2 separate regions of the Homo sapiens genome follow, and region 1 is linked to region 2. The links come from fine-mapping of genetic effects on plasma protein levels. Region 2 holds a variant in brackets. A gene starts in the other region. All regions are shown on their reverse strands.

The links. A credible set is the group of variants that fine-mapping cannot tell apart. PIP is the chance, under the fine-mapping model, that this variant and not a neighbour inherited with it causes the effect. The UK Biobank Pharma Proteomics Project read protein levels with antibody pairs (Olink). The fine-mapping took linkage between variants from a reference panel, not from the people measured, so its PIPs are less certain.
Region 1: it holds the start of TNFRSF4, and the variant in region 2 is the best candidate, but not a certain one, in a credible set for the plasma level of the TNFRSF4 protein (UK Biobank, PIP 0.86).

What each region holds. Positions count from the first base shown.
Region 1 is chr1:1,204,736-1,214,499 of GRCh38, reverse strand. TNFRSF4 (TNF receptor superfamily member 4) reads left to right here and starts at 347. Exons shown (of 7, transcript NM_003327.4): 1 at 347-517; 2 at 715-837; 3 at 1,407-1,508; 4 at 1,796-1,862; 5 at 2,362-2,558; 6 at 2,668-2,796; 7 at 2,875-3,160. The coding sequence starts at 373. The coding sequence ends at 2,945. TNFRSF18 (TNF receptor superfamily member 18) reads left to right here and starts at 7,908. Exons shown (of 5, transcript NM_004195.3): 1 at 7,908-8,115; 2 at 9,008-9,130. The coding sequence starts at 7,929. RefSeq lists silencers at 1,220-1,269, 5,473-5,582, 6,163-6,252, 9,125-9,325 and an enhancer at 5,449-6,328.
Region 2 is chr6:107,094,998-107,104,813 of GRCh38, reverse strand. It overlaps BEND3 (BEN domain containing 3), which reads left to right. Exons shown (of 4, transcript NM_001367314.1): 2 at 5,518-5,565; 3 at 6,061-6,263. The coding sequence starts at 5,529. Among named protein-coding and RNA genes, the nearest start is that of BEND3, 16 kb to the left of the region's middle. The variant T/G (reference allele first, on the strand shown) is at 5,502.

The DNA of each region.
Region 1 (9,764 bases), not on the chromosome of region 2:
ACCATGCTTCAGCAGTGCCACAGCCCTGAAGGTCCAGACTGAGGAGTTGCCTCTCCTGACTCAGTGCTGCCTCAGTTTACCCACGTGCTCCATGGACCTTTTTGCTGAGGGTCGAGCCGCAGGCCAGGCCCTACTGTGCCCTGGGGTCTGAACACGGTGGTCTTGGGCAGAAGAGGTCAGAAGGCAGAATAAGCCAATGCTGGGGGTGCCCAGACCCCGCCTTTGTGCCCAGCCCACAGCCAGGGTCCCCGGCCTGCCACCTTCCTCCTCCCGCCTCCTCTGCCCTCCTCCCCTCTCCCCTCCCCTCCTCCACAGTCCTTATAGCCACACCCCGCAAGGAAAACCCAGACTCTGGCGACAGCAGAGACGAGGATGTGCGTGGGGGCTCGGCGGCTGGGCCGCGGGCCGTGTGCGGCTCTGCTCCTCCTGGGCCTGGGGCTGAGCACCGTGACGGGGCTCCACTGTGTCGGGGACACCTACCCCAGCAACGACCGGTGCTGCCACGAGTGCAGGCCAGGTGAGGCCTCAGGAGGGGTCGCCACGCACGGGCACTCCAGGGACTGGGGGCTGGGGCAGGGATGGGCCAGCCAGGAGGCTGGTCCTGGGGAGGGGGCGGGTGAGGGGCCGGCCAAGCCTGGCAGAGGAGCCGCCTGGGGGGGTCCACGGGCGCAAGCCTGGGGCCTGACCGCTGCCTGACGCCGGCCTCTGCTGCAGGCAACGGGATGGTGAGCCGCTGCAGCCGCTCCCAGAACACGGTGTGCCGTCCGTGCGGGCCGGGCTTCTACAACGACGTGGTCAGCTCCAAGCCGTGCAAGCCCTGCACGTGGTGTAACCTCAGTGAGCTCCCACCTGGCCCCACAGCCCCACCCAGCACAGGGGGCGGCAGCCTGGCACCCACATTCCCACGCAGCAGCATGGGGCTCCCACAGCCGCAGAAACGAACCTCAAACCACAGCGGGGTCTGCTCCGCCACAGGGGTCCTTCGAGGAGCTGAGGCGTCTCCCAGGGGCACCCCCTCTCCCTCCGGGGGCCCAGACTCGGCCCAGGCCACGTGGAGTCGGGGAGACCACGCTGGCCATGTGGCCTGGCCTTGCTGGCCTGAGCAGTGAGGCTGGGGGGTTGGGCCATGGAGACCCTGCCGCAGGCGGGGCTGGCGGCTGGAGGCGGTGGAGGGGTAGGGAAGGGTGGCTGGGGCTGCCACGGAACCAGCCCCAGGTTGTGGCCAGGAAGGGAGGGCCCAGGAGCCTCGGGGGCTGCAGGGGCTCCAAGTCTCAGGGGAGGCCGCAGACCCCTGCCCACGGCCCTCTGTGTGGTGGGGAGGCCAACCTGTCCTCCAGTGCCCACGCTTCCTGAGGACCCTGTCCACAGCCCCCACCTGACCACCCCCCCATCCGGCCCCTGCTCAGGAAGTGGGAGTGAGCGGAAGCAGCTGTGCACGGCCACACAGGACACAGTCTGCCGCTGCCGGGCGGGCACCCAGCCCCTGGACAGCTACAAGCCTGGAGTTGGTGAGCTCGGTGGCTGCGGCCGGCGGTTGGGGGTGTGCATAGCGGCTGTCTGTGACGCAGATGGGCCGTGGGCCGCAGGGACCTGGCCCCACCGGTGCCTCCTCTGGCATCCTCAAGACCGAGCTCCCGGGTCAGGGCCCACGGGTGGGATGTGGGCAGGGAGGGCTTCCAGAGGCCAAACCCACCACCCAGCCATGGGGGGCAAGTGCCTGCCCCACAGGCTCTGCCCCATGTCCCCAGCACCCGGGGCCTGTGGGCAGCCCCTGACCACCCTATCTTTGTTGCAGACTGTGCCCCCTGCCCTCCAGGGCACTTCTCCCCAGGCGACAACCAGGCCTGCAAGCCCTGGACCAAGTGAGGGGCCTGGCCAGGGGCTGGGAGGGGCTGGGGGGGGGTTGGGGTGGTTAGGAGGGCGGAGGAGCTGGGGAGCTGGGAGGGGCTGGGGGGGCAGGTGGGGTGGGGGCAGTTTTGGGGGAAGGGGAGGTGCTGGTGGCCCTGGGGGCCTGGCTATGTGGCTGGACCTGGTTGGGGAGCAGGAAGCTGCTGCCTGGGGGCAGCCTTTCCCTGTGGGTGGAGCTGGGTGTGTGGGACCCTCACCCTCCGCAGCTGGGAGGCCCTGGGGGCACAGGACAGGGAGGTGCTGGTGGGGGGTGTAGATGTGGGAGAAGGGTGTGTGGCCTTGGAGGCCCCTGTGGGGGGCACGTGGGGCTGGGCAGCGTCCTTGGCTGTCACTGGCCTGGTGTCTGTGGTAGATGCTGCCTGTGGCTGGCCAGCGTGGACCCTGTTATCCCCACCGCATCTCCCGGGTCCCAGGGGGTTTCTGGCCTGAGCAACACCTCCTGTTCCCCAACAGCTGCACCTTGGCTGGGAAGCACACCCTGCAGCCGGCCAGCAATAGCTCGGACGCAATCTGTGAGGACAGGGACCCCCCAGCCACGCAGCCCCAGGAGACCCAGGGCCCCCCGGCCAGGCCCATCACTGTCCAGCCCACTGAAGCCTGGCCCAGAACCTCACAGGGACCCTCCACCCGGCCCGTGGAGGTCCCCGGGGGTAAGGGCGCCTGGCCCAGCCCAGCGGGGCCCCCAACCCGAATAGGAGAAGGGGAGGGCGGCATGGGGGCCCCTCCTGTGGACCCCACCCAGCAGACCCCTTCCTGCAGGCCGTGCGGTTGCCGCCATCCTGGGCCTGGGCCTGGTGCTGGGGCTGCTGGGCCCCCTGGCCATCCTGCTGGCCCTGTACCTGCTCCGGAGGGACCAGAGGCTGCCCCCCGATGCCCACAAGCCCCCTGGTGAGTGCCTCATGGCCCTGCCGCACTGCTCCTGGCGGGTGAGGCCCACCCACCAATCTCTCCTTTTTTCCTCCCCAGGGGGAGGCAGTTTCCGGACCCCCATCCAAGAGGAGCAGGCCGACGCCCACTCCACCCTGGCCAAGATCTGACCTGGGCCCACCAAGGTGGACGCTGGGCCCCGCCAGGCTGGAGCCCGGAGGGTCTGCTGGGCGAGCAGGGCAGGTGCAGGCCGCCTGCCCCGCCACGCTCCTGGGCCAACTCTGCACCGTTCTAGGTGCCGATGGCTGCCTCCGGCTCTCTGCTTACGTATGCCATGCATACCTCCTGCCCCGCGGGACCACAATAAAAACCTTGGCAGACGGGAGTCTCCGACCGGCACTGTGGGCTGCACACCTGTGGCATGGAGGCTTGGGCCGTGCCCGCCTCTGACTGGAGAGGGGTCTTGGGAGGCTTGGGCCGTGCCCGCCTCTGGCTGGACAGGGGTCTTGGGAGGCTTGGGCCGTGCCCGCCTCTGGCTGGAGAGGGGTCTTGGGAGACTTGGGCCGTGCCAACCTGTGGCTGGAAAGGGGTCTTGGGAGACTTGGGCCGTGCCAACCTGTGGCTGGAGAGGGGTCTTGGGAGACTTGGGCTGTGCCAACCTGTGGCTGGAGAGGGGTCTTGGGCCAGGGTGGAGGTGAGGGTAGCGGGGTCAAGTGGGACCCTGGAGGTTGGTCCCTGGGTGCGAGTTCCAGATTGAGTGGGGAGCGGGGGGAGAGACTGGGAAAGCTCAGGCCCAAGGCTGCCTGGGGTGGAGGTTCCTGGCCAGGCGCTGACAAGGGCAGCTGGCCCCTGAGCCCCGGGTTGCCCAAGGAGCTTGGGAGTGGCTGACCCCCGGGGCTCTGTGTCCTTGGAGGAGGAGTGTAGAGACCTGCCCCTCTTCCCCTCCACACCTACGCCCACCCCTTGCTGCACCTGGAAGGGGGTCCCAGGGCCCCTGAGCACCCCGAGGAGTCCCTGCAAAGGGCCCACACGGCCCCTATGTCCCTGCCATAGGTGTCCAGGGGGACAGTCACCTTGGAAACCACAGTTTCTGCTTGAGCCAACTTTCTGTCCACCCTGGGCCCCGGCCGTCCCACTCCTGCGCACTTAAGAGTCCTGGGATCTGAATGAGAATGACCACAGCGACTTCATGTAACGTGGCCCCACAGTGGAGAAACCCAGGCATCCGCCAGCAGCGTGGATGCGCGAGTGCTGGCGTGTTCAGATGAGCTCCCAGCTCCTCGGCCCACACCACAGGTGTCCACAGACGCTCCCAAGGCCCTGGGGCCGTCCCCGGCCGTGCGGGAATCTTCTCAAGCTGGTGTCTGGGAGTGGGGTATCCTTCGAGCAGCACAGAGCCTGCTCCCGAGCGCCAGTCACGCCCGAGGCCACAGCTCGGGAACAAGGCGGGAGCAGCCCTGCAGGCTTCCCGCAGGGAAGACACCCCGGGCGTCTAAGCGACATCTGTGTCCCTCGGGAGGCGGAGGTGCCTGTTCGCCTCCATGGTGTCAGGGGCTGAAGAGAAACACTCCCGAGGGCTAAGACGTCTCACTGCACTTGTTTTTTCTTTCTTTTTTTTTTTTTGCCGGAGTCTTGCTGTGTCACCCAGGCTGGAGTGCAGTGGTGTGATCTCAGCTCACCAACCTCTGCCTCCCGGGTTCACGCCATTCTCCTGCCTCAGCCTCCCAAGTAGCTGGGACTACAGGCGCCCAGCACCACACCCGGCTAATTTTTGTATTTTATTAGAGACAGGGTTTCACCATGTTGGCTAAGCTGGTCTTGAACTCCTGACCTCAGGTGATCCACCTGCCTCGGTGCCCTGGAGTACTGCGATTCCAGGTGTGAGCCACCACGCCTGGCCCTCACTGCACTCATGAGCAAGAAACACACAGCCGAGGCCGGTCACGGTGGCTCACGCCTAGAATCCTAGCACTTTGGGAGGCTGAGGCCAGACGATCGTCTGAGCTCAGGAGTTTGAGACCCGCCTGGGTAACATGGCAAGACCCTTTTCTATGAAAAATAGAAAAAATCAGCCGGGTGTGGTGGTGCATGCCTGTGGTCCCGGCTACTTGGGAGGCCGAGGTGGGAGGATCACTTGAGCCCAAGAGATGGAGGCTGCAGTGAGACGTGACTGGAAAAAAAAAAAGAAATTTAAAAAAATTACTTAAGAAGAAACACATGAAGCCTCATGGAAGGTTTTGCTGAGGGCCTGGCACAGCCTGGACACTCCGGCTACCGTGGCTGGTGTGGCCCAGCCCCGCAGCTGCACCCGCTGCCCCACACAGCGTCCCTGGGCCAGCCTTCCCTCTCCCTGCGTCCTCCAACAGCGCACGCTGCCCACGGCTGTCCAGGCCTCCTGTGCCTGGCGGATGGCTCCCCCCTGCCGGTGTCGTGGAAGTGGGGAACCGGCCCCGGGGGTGCACAGTGGGAGCGCCACGCGCCACTCACAACAGCCCAAGGTGCCGGGACCACAGGTGGCTGTAAGGAAGACGCCCATCTCTGGCCTCGGGCTGCCCTGGACCCCTCCTGCCTCTGCAGCTGGTTTTCTCCCCTGGGTCTCTCTCTCCTCAAACCTCTGTCTTCCACCCACTCTCTGCTAACCACAAGCCTCCCCCCCCGCAGCATAGGGAAGTCAGAGGCCGTCCTGTCCCCCATCCAGCACCTTCACCGAGTTCCCCGGGTTCCTGCACACGGTTCAGCCTGCAGGCCCTGCACAGGGTTGGGGCCGCGCCTCTGAGAGCCCCCCGCCCCCCGCCCCGTGGGGCAGGCGAGGCCAGACCTCCAGGCAGGATGGCGGGTGGGTGGGGGAAGGGGTCAGGTGGCCGGGACTGGAGCGGCCAGATCCTGTGGGGCCCGCAGGTCGACGGCTATGGGAAAGGGGCCTCCTCCCCAAACCTGGCGCCCATACCCATCGCTTCCTGTCTCCTCCCCTCTGGGCACAGCACCCCCCAGGCCCCGTGGGACTTATTCCCCAGCAGGACCCCTTGCCGCACCCCCAGATGGACACGGGGCCACCTCCTCTTGGTCTCCATGCTCACCCTCCCCGCCCCCTCGCCTGACGCCATCTCTGCTGGCAACTCCTGTGCCATCTGTGCCGAAGGCCCTGCCTGAACTCTGGCTCAGTGCCCATCTGCACCCTCCCCGTGGGGCCTCACAGCTGCCCTTCTGGACGTACGCAAGGGCTGTCCCTCGCCCGGCCCGTGGGCTGCTCTGCTGTGTGAATGCCCCGTCATTTGTGTCACCGGTGAGCTGCTCAATAAGATGAACAAGTCACCTCCAGCCTCGCAGCCCAAGGATAGGAGTCACGGGGAGCCGGGGAGGGGCCTTCTGCGGCGAGAGGGATGGGAGGGTGGACGTCACACCCCTGCAGCCCCTCCGGGGACCACCCTGTGTGGCAAGCTGCTCTCCGGCTGTTCAAAGTGTCAGCTGCGCCACGGGGCGGGGGGGAGGGGCTCCTCTGCCCGCTGGCCGCCTCCCACTTGGCCCCATAAACTGCTCGCTCCTCTAACTCTGTCCCTGCCTCTAGATGGATGACTCACACCGTGTGGTCTGATGAGCATTCTTTATTTTTTGTGATGGAGTCTCGCTCTGTCACCCAGGCTGGAGTGCAATGGTGCCATCTTGGTTCGCCGCAACCTCTGCCTCCCAGGTTCAAGCAATTCTCCTGCCTCAGCCTCCCGAGTAGCTGGGATTACAGGCGTGCGCCACCACGCCTGGCTAATTTTTTTTGTATTTTTAGTAGAGACGGGCTTTCTCCATGTGGGTCAGGCTGGTCTCGAACCCCTGACCTCAGGTGATCCGAGGCCCACCTCGGCCTCCCAAAATGCTGGGATTACGGGCGTGAGCCACTGATGGCGCCTCTTTCTATCCAGGGGCCCAGACCCCCTCCCAGCCTCGGGGCTGAAGATCTCCAGGCCTCTCAAAGGCCCCCAGGCCCAGCTGGCCCCACCCCTTTCCTTCCGAGCGTCGGGGCGGCCTGGAGCTGCAGAGACCCCTTCCTTCTCTGCAGTGTCTGAGGGCTGCCTCTCCAAGGCAGGCTCCTACATCTTGGATTTGAGAACTCCGGGGTGTCACAAACAGCTAATTCCTGTCATTTACCTTGGAAAAGGAGGAACCGCCTTACGGGGTGAGGCGGTGGCTGCAGGTCTCAAAAGGGTGTTGAACCACATCCACGCTCACGTTCCCGAGAGCCCCCACCCCCAGCATTCATGGGGGTCTCCACCTGTGCTGGACGGCGCAGAAGCAGGGCTGGGCAATCCAGGGAGGCTTCCTGGTGGAGGCAGGGTCCCAGAACCCCTCGGTGCCCACAGGGGAAACTGAGGCTCAGAAAGACATAGGACAGTCTCCCAAGAGCTCTGCGAGGGGCTCCTCCTCAACTCCCTCCGGGACCTGGATCTGTCTGGTGTGACGGATGAAGGTGGCTCTGAGAGACCGGGCCCTGGGTGCCCGCGGGGGCGGCTGACACTGTCCCGAGGAGGCGCCAGCACCCTCTCGTCTCCCCACCAGCTCCTCCTGGTGCCCCTCCCAAGCCCCGGGGAACTTCCCAGGTTGGCCTGAGGGGGGTCCTGGAGAGCTGCAAGCAAGGGGGAGGGGAGCCCACAGGCCTGCAGCCCATGGTGAGTTTCACACCTGAAGCCAGCCAGGTGGGGTGTGCTGAGCCGAGGGGTCCCTGTCCCCATTCTGTGGGGTTCCCCAGCACGGGGCTCCATGGTTGAGGCTCTCTGGGGGTGGCCAGAATTTGTGGAGACCTCTCGGGGACTCGCAGATACCACCCGGAGGCAGTGGGATGGAGGAGTGATTGGCTGACCCCCGCCCTCCAAGGGGCCCCCATGGGACAAGGTGCTATAAACGCCGCCCCCTGCACTGGGGACACCAATGTGGCCGCAGACTTTGCATAGAAAACCTTTCTGATCCCCGCCAGCCTGGTTTCCCCGCCCCTGCCGGCGACCTGCGGGGGACCGGGCTGTGTCCGCAGTGTCTACACCCCCTCCTCACACGCACTTCACCTGGGTCGGGATTCTCAGGTCATGAACGGTCCCAGCCACCTCCGGGCAGGGCGGGTGAGGACGGGGACGGGGCGTGTCCAACTGGCTGTGGGCTCTTGAAACCCGAGCATGGCACAGCACGGGGCGATGGGCGCGTTTCGGGCCCTGTGCGGCCTGGCGCTGCTGTGCGCGCTCAGCCTGGGTCAGCGCCCCACCGGGGGTCCCGGGTGCGGCCCTGGGCGCCTCCTGCTTGGGACGGGAACGGACGCGCGCTGCTGCCGGGTTCACACGACGCGCTGCTGCCGCGATTACCCGGGTAAGTAAACCGCGTTTACTTAACGCGGACCGGCCAAGGCGTCCCGCGGAAGCCGGGATGGGTGGGCGCCCCCCTTCCCGTGCTCAGACCGGCGTTGCTGAGGTCTAAGGAGGGTGGGCACAGAGCCGCCAGCAGCGGGAGCCTTCCGGAGGGAGGCAGGATCCCAGAGGGAGGCGGAGGTGTGCCAGCTCCAGCCAGTGGCCCCGGCCGGGAGCAGGGGTGAGCCAGGTGGGAGCGCCCTCAAGAGGGGTCTGGGGTCTGGAGGTGGAGGACGGCTGTTCCAGGTCCTGCTGGGCGGGTCGTGAGCCCTTGGCCATCGCCCAGCCCCCTCCTGCCCAGTTGAGGGCCCCCCTGCACCACCGTCTGGCCTGCTGCCTGCCTCTGACCTGCACCTGGGGATGAGGGTTCAGCTGACACGGCTGGTCTGGAGAGGAAGCTGGCAGGGAAGTCACCCCAGAGCTTCTTCCTCCAGGGCCTGTGGGTTGGGAAGGGAGGCTCTGTCCGGAGGCCCAGTGTGGCTGGTGGTGGGGACAGCAGCGCCCAGACACCAGGCAGGCGGCCTCTGAGGTGTCGACGGGCCTCCAGGGGACTGTGCACTGTTGGGGGCCACCCCTGGGTCCTGCAGGGGCAGCTCCTGGTTGCATATGGAGTTAGCACCTGGGCAGGGGCAGCTGTGGGGCGCAAAGGGGGAGTAGCCAGGCCACATGGCCCCAGGAGAAAGAGACAGCTGGATAAACCCAGGGTCCAGACTCCCAGCCAGGAGCCCTCTGCTCCCTGGAGCCAACTGTGGGTGGAGAACGGACAACCTCACTCCCCTGGAGGGCCGAGGGGAGGCCTGGGGAGGAGGGGGCCTCAGCCCAGCTGCTGGGGGGCTGGCCTGTCTCCTGCCCAGGCGAGGAGTGCTGTTCCGAGTGGGACTGCATGTGTGTCCAGCCTGAATTCCACTGCGGAGACCCTTGCTGCACGACCTGCCGGCACCACCCTTGTCCCCCAGGCCAGGGGGTACAGTCCCAGGGTAAGTCCTGGAGGTGCCTCTGGGAGTCCACACAGGCCAGGGGTTCCACTAGGGCCCGAGGCAGAGCTCGTGGGCACAGGTGTCCGGCGAGGACATGTGGTGTGTGGGGTCCGGAGTCCTGTGAGGCCGGGCAGGCCAGGCCATGCTCAGGCACCACAGGCCATGAAGCTCTGGGGGTGTCCTGTCCCTGCTTTCTCAGCCTGGGCTTCTCCATCCAGCACGAGGGCTGTGAGAACCCTGCGGGGAGGTGGGGGCGGGTTCCAGGAGCTGTCTGGCTCTCAGGCCCGGGACACCCATCCTGTCTGTCCTCACCACATACTGAAAGAGCCTGCCCTGTGCCCCCCGGAGTCCTGTCTGGGGCCTGGGGCTGCACCCTGTTCTGGAAGGAGCAGCTCAAGTCCTCTTAGCGGCTTGTTTACCTGACAGGAGAGGTCAGGCTGGGCACATGAGAGCTGGGAGAAGGTACAACTGGGGAGGTTGTGTCAGGTTGGACGGGGCAGGGTCTGGGGTCAACTGGGACCCAGCCTCACTCTCTCTGGGACCCTCACTGTTCTCCACCCTCTGTTCTACTGGGTCCTGCCTGGCTTCTGCCCACCCTCAGCCCCCAATGGGCAGGCCTTTCCCCTCCCTGGCA
Region 2 (9,816 bases):
GCCTGTGGTCCCAGCTGCTTGGGAGGCTGAGGTGGGAGGATGGCTTGAGTCCAGGAGGTTAAGGCTGCAGTAAGACACGATCATACCACTGCACTGCAGCCTGGGTGACAGAACCCATCTTAAAAAAAAAAAAAATCCAAAAGAAAAACCAGTAAAAAATTACACCACGAAAAAACTATACACTATAACCACTATTTATATACCACTTACATTGTATTATTATAAGTAATCTGGAGGTGATTTAAAGTATACAGGAGGATGTACACAGGTTACATGCAAATATTATGCTATTTTTTATCAGGGACTTGAACATCTGTGGATTTGGGTGTCACTGGGAGTCTTGGAACCAACCCCCTGAGGATACTAAGGCATGACTATATTACCTGGTAAAAAATGGGGAAAAGCCACATTATGTATCTTCCCTCTTAAAATGAACACTAAAAAGATGAAGTGTCCTGTAGTGTGTAACTCTTTCCAGCCTATCTCTTTGTGATGTGGTTCTTCCTTTTTTTTTTTTTTTTTTTGAGACGGAGTCTCGCTCTGTCGCCCAGGCTGGAGTGCAGTGGCGCGATCTCGGCTCACTGCAGGCTCTGCCTCCTGGGTTCATGCCATTCTCCTGCCTCAGCCTCCCGAGTAGCTGGGACTATGGGCGCCCGCCACCACGCCTGGCTAATTTTTTTTTGTATTTTTTTTAGTAGAGATGGGGTTTCACCGTGTTAGCCAGGATGGTCTCCATCTCCTGACCTCGTGATCTGCCCGCCTCCAAAGTGCTGGGGTTACAGGTGTGAGCTACCACGCCCGGCCTTCTCTTTTTTCTTTGTTTTTTCTTTCTTTCTTTCTTTCTTTCTTTCTTTTTTTTTTTTTTGAGACGGAGTTTCGCTCTTGTTGCCTAGCCTGGCGTTGAATGGCGCGATCTCGGCTCCTCACAACCTCCGCCTCCCGGATTCAAGCGATTCTCCTGCCTCAGCCTCCTGAGTAGCTGGGATTACAGGCACGCGCCACCATGCCCAGCTAATTTTGTATTTTTAGTAGAGATGGGGTTTCTGCATGTTGGTCAGGCTGGTCTCCAACTCCCATCCTCAGGTGATCCGCCCGCCTTGGCCTCCCAAAGTCCTGGGATTACAGGCGTGTGCCACCGTGCCTGGCCTCTTTTTTCTTTTTCTTTTTTCCTAGGCTTAGCTCAGCTGTCTGAGGGACATAGAACAGACATCCCTTGGGGAGAAAGTTGATTTTGGGGAACGTGTGGATGTGTTGACTGTCCCATAATTTGAGGTTTATGGTGGGAGGCATGAGAACATTTTGAAAATGAGAGAATGTCAGAATGAGAAGTTCTCCAGAGTCCAGGAGGCAAAGGGAATGCTCACAGCAGCCTTTAGGAGGTGGGTGCTGTGGTGGTTGGGTAGTTGTGGCAGCGCCTACGTAGCCTATAGTCAGGTAGGCGAGAGGAATGTCTGTGGCATGCTAGGCATCTGGGTGCTGGGTGTCCACCCAGGAGGAGCAGAGCTTGTGACCCTCATCTGGGCAGGTGACCAGGAAATGGAGGTAGCAGTGTGCTCCCCATCCCCTTTCTGCCCAGCTGTGACATTGTTGGTGTGCTGTCCCTGCGCCAGCTGGGGATGCAGGGAGTGGCCTACACATCTCTCTTGTAGAAGCTTTTCTGTATTGTGGGGTGGAGTCTGTTTCTACGCACGGAGCAGACTGACTTTCCAGAGTGCTAATGGAGGCAGAAGGAGATGTGGTTTCCTGGTGCTGTTGGACAGAGGGACTCAAATTTGGAAACAGGCCCATGGTTCATCAGAAGAAGCTTAACAAAAGAATGAAGACTCTATTATTTCCTCCCTGGCTGGCTGAGGGAAGGCACAGAAAGACTCGATTTGAAGCCAGGTTCTGCCACTCAGTGATGTGACACTGGAGGAGTTACCTGTCCTGGGTTTCTCTATTTGTTGAAATTGGAACTAAAATAGCTCAGGGTGAGGCACAGGCACACATGCAGTGGCCAGCCCAGTGCCTGGTGTGAAGTTGGTGGGCTGCAGATGTTACAGGGGATGCTCACCTCACTCCCCACTGCGCAAGCCAGGGGCAGGCGCGAGGTTTCCAGGCCTTGCAAATGGGAGATTCCCCAGCTTCTTAATGAGTGAAGCTGATTTGCTGGCCCGGAGGGAAGGGGCCCACCATGCTGTGTTCTGGGCTACTTCTGGGCTAACCTAGCATCTGTCACTAGTCTATAAATGGACACGGAAGTGTTTTCCAAAGCACAAGCACTCGGTGTCTTGAATGCCCAGGCAGCCGCACCAGCACCCCTTCCTCCCACCTCAGCTGCATGAGCCCTCTGGGGTTTCTGCCCACTGCAGGTGGCTGAGATGTGTGCTCTTCCTTCATCACTTTATAGGGGCTCAAAATTCAGAGGCCAAATTGCCTGCTGTAGGGTCACATGGTGGTGGTTCAGAAAATAGCCTCCTTCCAACCCCACTGGAAACAAGGAAAAATAAAAAATCAGAAAATAGGTTTTCTGCTCACCAAGCCACATTCCCGGCAGGCTCCATGTGGCAGCCTGGACTCCAGCCCTGCACTGCTCCCTATGTGATGGGCCTGCCAGAGACACATGGTTGGGCGAATATAATGGCAGATAAATAGACTGCCCTTCTCACCACCCATGGCCCTGTCTGCTGTGTTCTCTCATCGACGCCTGTTTTGTTTTGTTCTAGTATTTGCCCATCCTTTTAGTGCTTTCCACTTACCAGAATCTTTGACTCTTTGCAATTTTTCTTTCACCATGACCCTTTTCCTCCCCAAATAAACCAACCGCTGTCTCCTCCCTCTCTGCCTTTTCTCTGCCAAATGTAATTTGTTTTGTAAAGTATGTCCGCCTCTGACAGCCATCGTTTTGCCCCATCTGTTCTGCATCTCAGAACTCCCCTTGATTGGCAGGAATGGGTTATGTGACCATGGCAGTTTCCAAGGGCAGGGGCATTCAGGTGACCTGCAGTGTGTTTCCTTGAGAGGCCTCCTACCAGGCTGGGAATCCGGTCTTGAATTTCTGCCTGGCATTGTCCAGCCCTTCTAGCCACTCAGAGACACCCAGCTCAGATGATGGCGATCCAAAGTGAGGTGTAGTTCCTTGAAATACAGTGGAAGGAGTTGCTAAAATTTGACTCTGGTAAAATAGTTCTCGGACCCTTGAAGTTGACTTATTATTTGTTTTCTGTCAATATCACCCTGTGTGTAATGTTTTTTCAGGTAGGAGATGGCTTGGTGAGTAGGAATTATTTTCAGTTTCAAATCTCATTTTGGTTTTCATTCCTCTGAAAATTAGCAATACAGGGATGAAAAGAATTGTGCCTGTCTTGCACTATTGTGCACTGTTCTTGAACTAAAAATAGTGCTTCACATCATAAGCACTGTATGTGTTGCCATTATTAGTAACCTTTGCAGTGATGATTGTGCTCATGGATCACCCAGACACACTCTCCCTCTTGCTGCCATCCCCACCCCATTCACCTGTCTAAAACAGGTACTGTATGTCAAACACACACCATTCTGTGGCTACTCCTTGAATGGTTCACTGAACATTTTAGATGGCTTCATGCTTACAGAGTTTCTTTCTTTTTTTTTGAGACAGAGTCTCACTCTGTCACCCAGGCTGGGGTATAGTGGTGTGATCTTGGCTCACTGCAACCTCTGCCTCCCGGGTTCAAGCAGTTCTCCTGCCTCAGTCTCCCAAGTAGCTGGGACTATAGGCGTGTGCCACCATGCCCAGCTAATTTTTGTATTTTTAGTACAGATGGGGTTTCACCATGTTGGCCAGGCTGGTGTTGAACTTCTGACCCCAGGTGATTCGCCCACCCCAGCCTCCCAAAGTGCTGGGATTACAGGCACGAGCCACCATTCCCGGCCAGAAATTTCTTAAGAGATACTTCTTGGTCCTGCTCTCCACTCATCCTCAACCAAAATGAGAACTCTGTGTTTGTAGTCAGCTTAATCAGTTGTGGGGATCACAACTCCCAAGTGTCAACATTAAAGATTGCAATGTATATTCTCCAAATGTTACTACCTTTGTATCTTGTACTATTTATGTACATGCTGTCATGGTATTCGGAGATATCAGAGACTTAGTGGTAATTTTGTTTGTTTTGTTTTAGTGGTGCTTTGCCTCATGGTGTCAGTTCCATTCCAGCTGAGGCAGGCAGGTTTTGCTTCAGACCCTGCAGCCTGGAACAGAGCACTGCCCACCTTTCTAATGAAGCTTAGGCTGGGCACAATGGCTCACACCTCTAATCCCAGCACTTTGGGAGGCTGAGGTGGGCGGATCATGAGGTCAGGAGATCGAGACCATCCTGGCTAACACGATGAAACCCTGTCTCTACTAAAAATACAAAAAATTAGCCGGGAGTGGTGGCTTATGCCTGTAGTCCCAGCTACTCGGGAGGCAGAGGCAGGAGAATCACTTGGAGGCAGAGGCAGGAGAATCACTTGAACCCAGGAGGCGGAGGTTGCAGTGAGCCAAGATTGCGCCACTGCACTCCAGCCTGGTGACAAAGCAAGATTCCGTTTCATAAACAAATAAATGAAATAAAGTATTGTATTTAGCCCAGTAAGTCCAAAATATTATCATTTCAACATGTAATCAATATAAAGCAATTATTAGGACTGGGCACTGTGGCTCAGATGTGTAATCCCAGCACTTTGGGAGGCCAAGGTGGAAGGATCGCTTGAGGAGTTCAAGAGCAGCCTGGTCAACATAGTGAAACCGCATCTCTACAAAAAAATTTTTTAATTAGCTGTGGGTGGCGGCATGTGGTACCTGTAGTCCTAGCCATTCTAGAGGCTGAGGCAGGAGGATTGCTAGAGCCCAGGAATCAGAGGCTGCAATGAGCCATGATAGTGCTACTGTACTCCAGCCAGGGTGAAAAGAGTGAGACCTTTCCTCTAAAAAAAAAAAAATTACTAGTGAGATATTTTGCATTTCTGTTACTAAGTCTGAGATTTGGTGTGTATTTTACACTTATAGCACATCTCCATTGGACTAGCCACATTTTGAGTCCTTGGTAGCCAGGTGTGGCTAGTAGCCACCTTCAGGTCATGGGCAGCACAGTTCTCTTGACAACCGTAAGTCCTAAGATTTCAGGATCCATGGCCCCCATCCTTCAGCCTATTTGTTTTGTGGCTGGAATTTATAAGCATGGACTTAAAAGAGATAATTAAAATTGGGGTCTTTTTTAAGAGTTGATTTGTTCTTGTAATGTTCCCATGGCTCAGTAAGTGGCTATCAGTGGATGCTGTAAGACACATTCTGCTCACATAAAGTCTTGGAGAAGAGCTCCCAGCAGGGATGCACAAGGCCTGGCTGCTCCTGAGTGTCTGCAGACAAGATTAGGAGGACACATAGCTTCCACAGTGCTGTGCTGCTCTGTTACCTAGAGCTGGGGTTGGGAGGGTAAGAGGATTTTCTGTGGGTAGAGAAAATTAAGAAATAAATCAAGCAATAAGTCAACACATTGTCT[T/G]TGTCTTTTTATTTAGCGGAATAGAAGATGAACTCAACTGAATTCACCGAAGATGTAGAAGAAGGTAAAAAAAAAATGCCCTTTTTGAAAAATGTTTTTAACTGAATACTTTTGATCAGGTCATACATTCACATGGTCCAAAAATATACAAAGTTATATAGTGAAAAGTCCCCTCCACCCACACACTTGTTCCCCGGTTCCCATCCCCCTCCACCCACACACTTGTTATAAGCACCTTGTGTCACTTTTTAAAAATTACTTTTTTAAAGCACAAAAAGATAATATTTTATGTCTCTCCTTCCACTGTCTTCCCCCCCAAAAAAAGATGTTTAAACCAATTTGAACTAAATGCTCTTGGAACATGGCTTTATTGTACAGCACTAGTGCGGTGAGATAAAGATTGCATCGTTGGAAAGCTCAGGTTTGTTACAACTAGACATCATTATCTCAGCACTGGTGTCAAAGGGCGGCCCACAGACACCCTGCTGCTCAGAGAACCCTGCTGATCTCTGAGCAGCCCTGGTTTTTCCCACTGAGCCCTATTTCTTCTCTGACACAGTTCTAAAAAGTATCACTGTGAAAGTGGAGACAGAGGCTGAAGATGCTGCTCTGGACTGCTCCGTGAATTCCAGGACTTCTGAGAAGCACTCTGTGGACAGCGTCCTCACTGCCCTGCAGGACTCCAGCAAACGAAAGCAGCTGGTCAGCGATGGCCTGCTAGACTCTGTCCCCGGCGTGAAGAGGAGGCGGCTGATCCCCGAGGTGAGGGCCTAGCTGCTGTCACTCTTTGCTTGGGCTCTAACCCTCTCTGATTCCATGCTGAATCTCCCTCTTGTTTTGGGCATCCTGGCAACTGCTGAACCCTTGGGCATGGGAAGGTTTCATTTAAGCTATCCCATCTCTGGCTTCAGTTTCTCGAAAGTGTCTGTCTTTAACTGGAATTCTTGTTTGTGTTGGGATTCCTGGTGGGTAAAGGGAGCCTTCACATTGCAGCTGCTTTTGCGTTATTTTGCTGTGCTTTGTGGGGGAAAGCAGGAGCTTGCTGATAGTGAGGACGGTTAACGTAAGCCTACCACACTTGACATAGTAGCTGATTCTTGCAAAAGTGGGGCATTAGCTGGAGGTCAGGTCTTTTCCTAAATTAAATCTATCATTCACTTATTTAAATAGAGACTGGATCTCACTATGTTGCCCAGGCTGGTCTTGAACTCCTGGCCTCAAGTGATCCTCCTGACTTGGCCTCCCAAAGTGCTGGGATTACAGGCGTGAGCCATAGTGCACAGCCAACTCTTTGTTTAATTGGTTTGTTTTAACTCTCCCCTGTTGGATGTTAGGGCAGATCCAAACAAATTAGGAAGTTATACATTTTAGGGATTTGGTTAGGCTTTAATTTGCATAATGATGAGACTAAGATTTTAACCAAGATTTAAATATACATGTTTATAGTGAGGACCTACATTCCACATCATGGAACACTGAGTGATAGGTTTGTTGGGGTTTTTTTTTTTTTTTTTTTTTTTTTGAGACGGAGTTTTGCTGTTCTTGCCCAGGCTGGAGTGCAGTGGCGCAATCTCAGCTCACAGCAACCTCTGCCTCCTAGGTTCAAGCGATTCTCCTACCTCAGCCTCCCGAGAAGCTGAGATTACAGGCATGCGCCACCATGCCCAGCTAATTTTGTATTTTTAGTAGATACAGGGTTTCTCCATGTTGGCCAAGCTGGTCTTGAACTCCCGACCTCAGGTGATCTGCCTGCCTTGGCCTCCCAAAGTGCTGGGATTACAGGTGTGAGCCACTGTGCCTGGCCATGAGTGATACTTTTATTTACTATTTTATTTATTCAGGGTTTTTTTTTTCTAACTCTTTATTCTGGTCTGAATGGCTTTTCTTTTTTAAACAACTTGTTTCTCTAATTTATTTGGGCTTTAATTTTTTTTTTTTCATCTTTGAGACAGAGTTTCACTCTTGTTGCCCAGGCTGGAGTGCAATGGCGCGATCTTGGCTTACCGCAACCTCCGCCTCCTGGGTTCAAGCAATTCTCCTGCCTCAGCCTCCCGAGTAGCTGGGATTATAAGCGTGTGCCACCACGCCCGGCTAATTTTTGTATTTTTAGTAGAGACAGGGTTTCTTCATGTTGGTCAGGCTGGTCTCAATCTCCTGACCTCAGGTGATCCGCCTGCCTCAGCCTCCCAAAGTGTTCGGATTACAGGTGTGAGCCACTGCATCAGGCCCAAAACAACTTTATTAAGATATAATTCACATACTATACCTTTCACCAATTTAAGTTATATAATTTAATGTTTTTGTTTGTTTGTTTGTTTGTTTTTGTCTGAGACAGGGTCTCGCTCTGTCGCCCAGGCTGGAATGCAGTGGCGCAATCTCAGCTCACTGCAACATCTGCAGTGTTGGTCCAGGCTGGTCTCAAACTCCAGACCTCAAGTGGTCTGCCTGTCTTGGCCTCCCAAAGTGCTGGGATTACAAGCATGAGTCACCGCGCTCAGCCCTAGTTTAATGGTTTTTAGTATATTCCCAGAGTTATGCTATTTTAGGACATTTTTATAACCTTACAAAGAGTCCCTGCCCATTAGCAGTAGCTCCTCATTCCCTACTTTTCCAGCTACTGACAATCACTAATGTACTTTCTAAGGATTTGCCTATTGTGGGCATTTCATTTTTATTTTTAATTGATTGATTGATTGATGGATGGATGGAGTCTCGCTGTGTGGCCCAGGCTTGGAGTGCAGTGTCATGAGCTCAGCTCACTGCAGCCTCTGTCTCCTTGTTCAAGCGATTCTCCTGCCTCATCCTCCCGAGTAGCTGGGATTACAGGTGGGCACCACCACGCCTGGCTAATTTTTGTATTTTTAGTAGAGACAGGGTTTCACTATGTTGGCCAGGCTGGTCTCAAACTCCTGACCTCACGTAATTCACTCGCCTCGGCCTTCCAGATTGCTGGGATTACAGGCGTGAGTCACTATGCCCGGCCAATTCTAGGCATTTCATGTAATGTAATCATATGTTCTATGGCCATATGTGTCTGGCTTCTTAGCATAATGTTTTCAAGGTTCATCATCTATGTATCAGTACTTCATTTCTTTTTGTTTTAACAGACTTTATTTTATAGAGCAGTTTTAGGTTTACAGAAAAATTGAGCAAAAGAGACAGATTTCCCATATACTTCCTTACCCCTGCATGTTTATAACCTCCCCCATTGTCAACATTGTATACCAGATTGATGCATTTATTACAACTGATGATCCCCCATTGACACATTATTGCCCAAAGTCAGTAGTTTACATTAGGGCTCACTCTTGCTATTGTATAGTCTGTGGGTTTGGACAAATGTATATACCATTTGTAGTATCATACAGAGTAGTTTTGCTGTCCTAAAAATCTGTTATGCTCTATCTGTTCATCCTTCACTCCCACATAACCCCCAGCAACCACTGATCTCTTTACCATCTCCATACTTTTATCTTTTCCAGAATGTCGTGAAGTTGGAATCATACAATGTGTAGCCTTTTTAGATTGGTTTATTATACTTAGCAATATGCATTTGAGTTTCCTCCATGTCTTTTCATGGCTTAATAGCTCATTTTCTTTTAGCACTGAATCATATTCTATTGCCCAGATGTACCAGAGTTTATTTATTCATTTACCTACTAAAGGACATCTTGGATGCTTCCAAGTTTTGGCAATTATGAATAATGCTGCTATAAACATCCATGTATAGGTTTTCATGTGGACATAAGTTTTCAGCTCCTTTGGATAAACACCGAGGAGTGTGATTATGTTTAGTTTGGTAAAAAACTACCAAACTGCCTTCCAAAGTGGCTGGACCATTTTACAGTCCCACTAACAAGTTCCTCTTGCTCCACATCCTTGAAAGCATTTGCTGTTGTCAGTGTTCGGATTTTGACCATTCTAATAGGTATGTGGTAGTATCTTGGTTTTTTTCTTTGTTTAGTTTAAAAAAAATTTTTTTTTTGCAGAGATGAAGGTGGTCTCACTATGTTGCCCAGGCTATTCTTGACCTCCTGGCCTCAAGCGATCCTCTTGCCTCAGCCTCCCAAAGTGTTGGGATTACAGGCATGAGCCACTGTGCCCAGCAGTTGTGTTTTTGTTTATGTTATTGTTGTTGTTTGAGACAGGTTCTCTCTGTTGCCAGGGTGGAGTGCAAAAGCAGTGGCACAGCTAGGTGTGGTGGTTTAACACCTGTAATCCTTGCATCTTGGGAGGCTGAGGCAGGTGGATTGCTTGAGTCCAGGAGTTCCAGATCAGCCTGGGCAATATGGCAAAACCTTGTCTCTACAAAAAA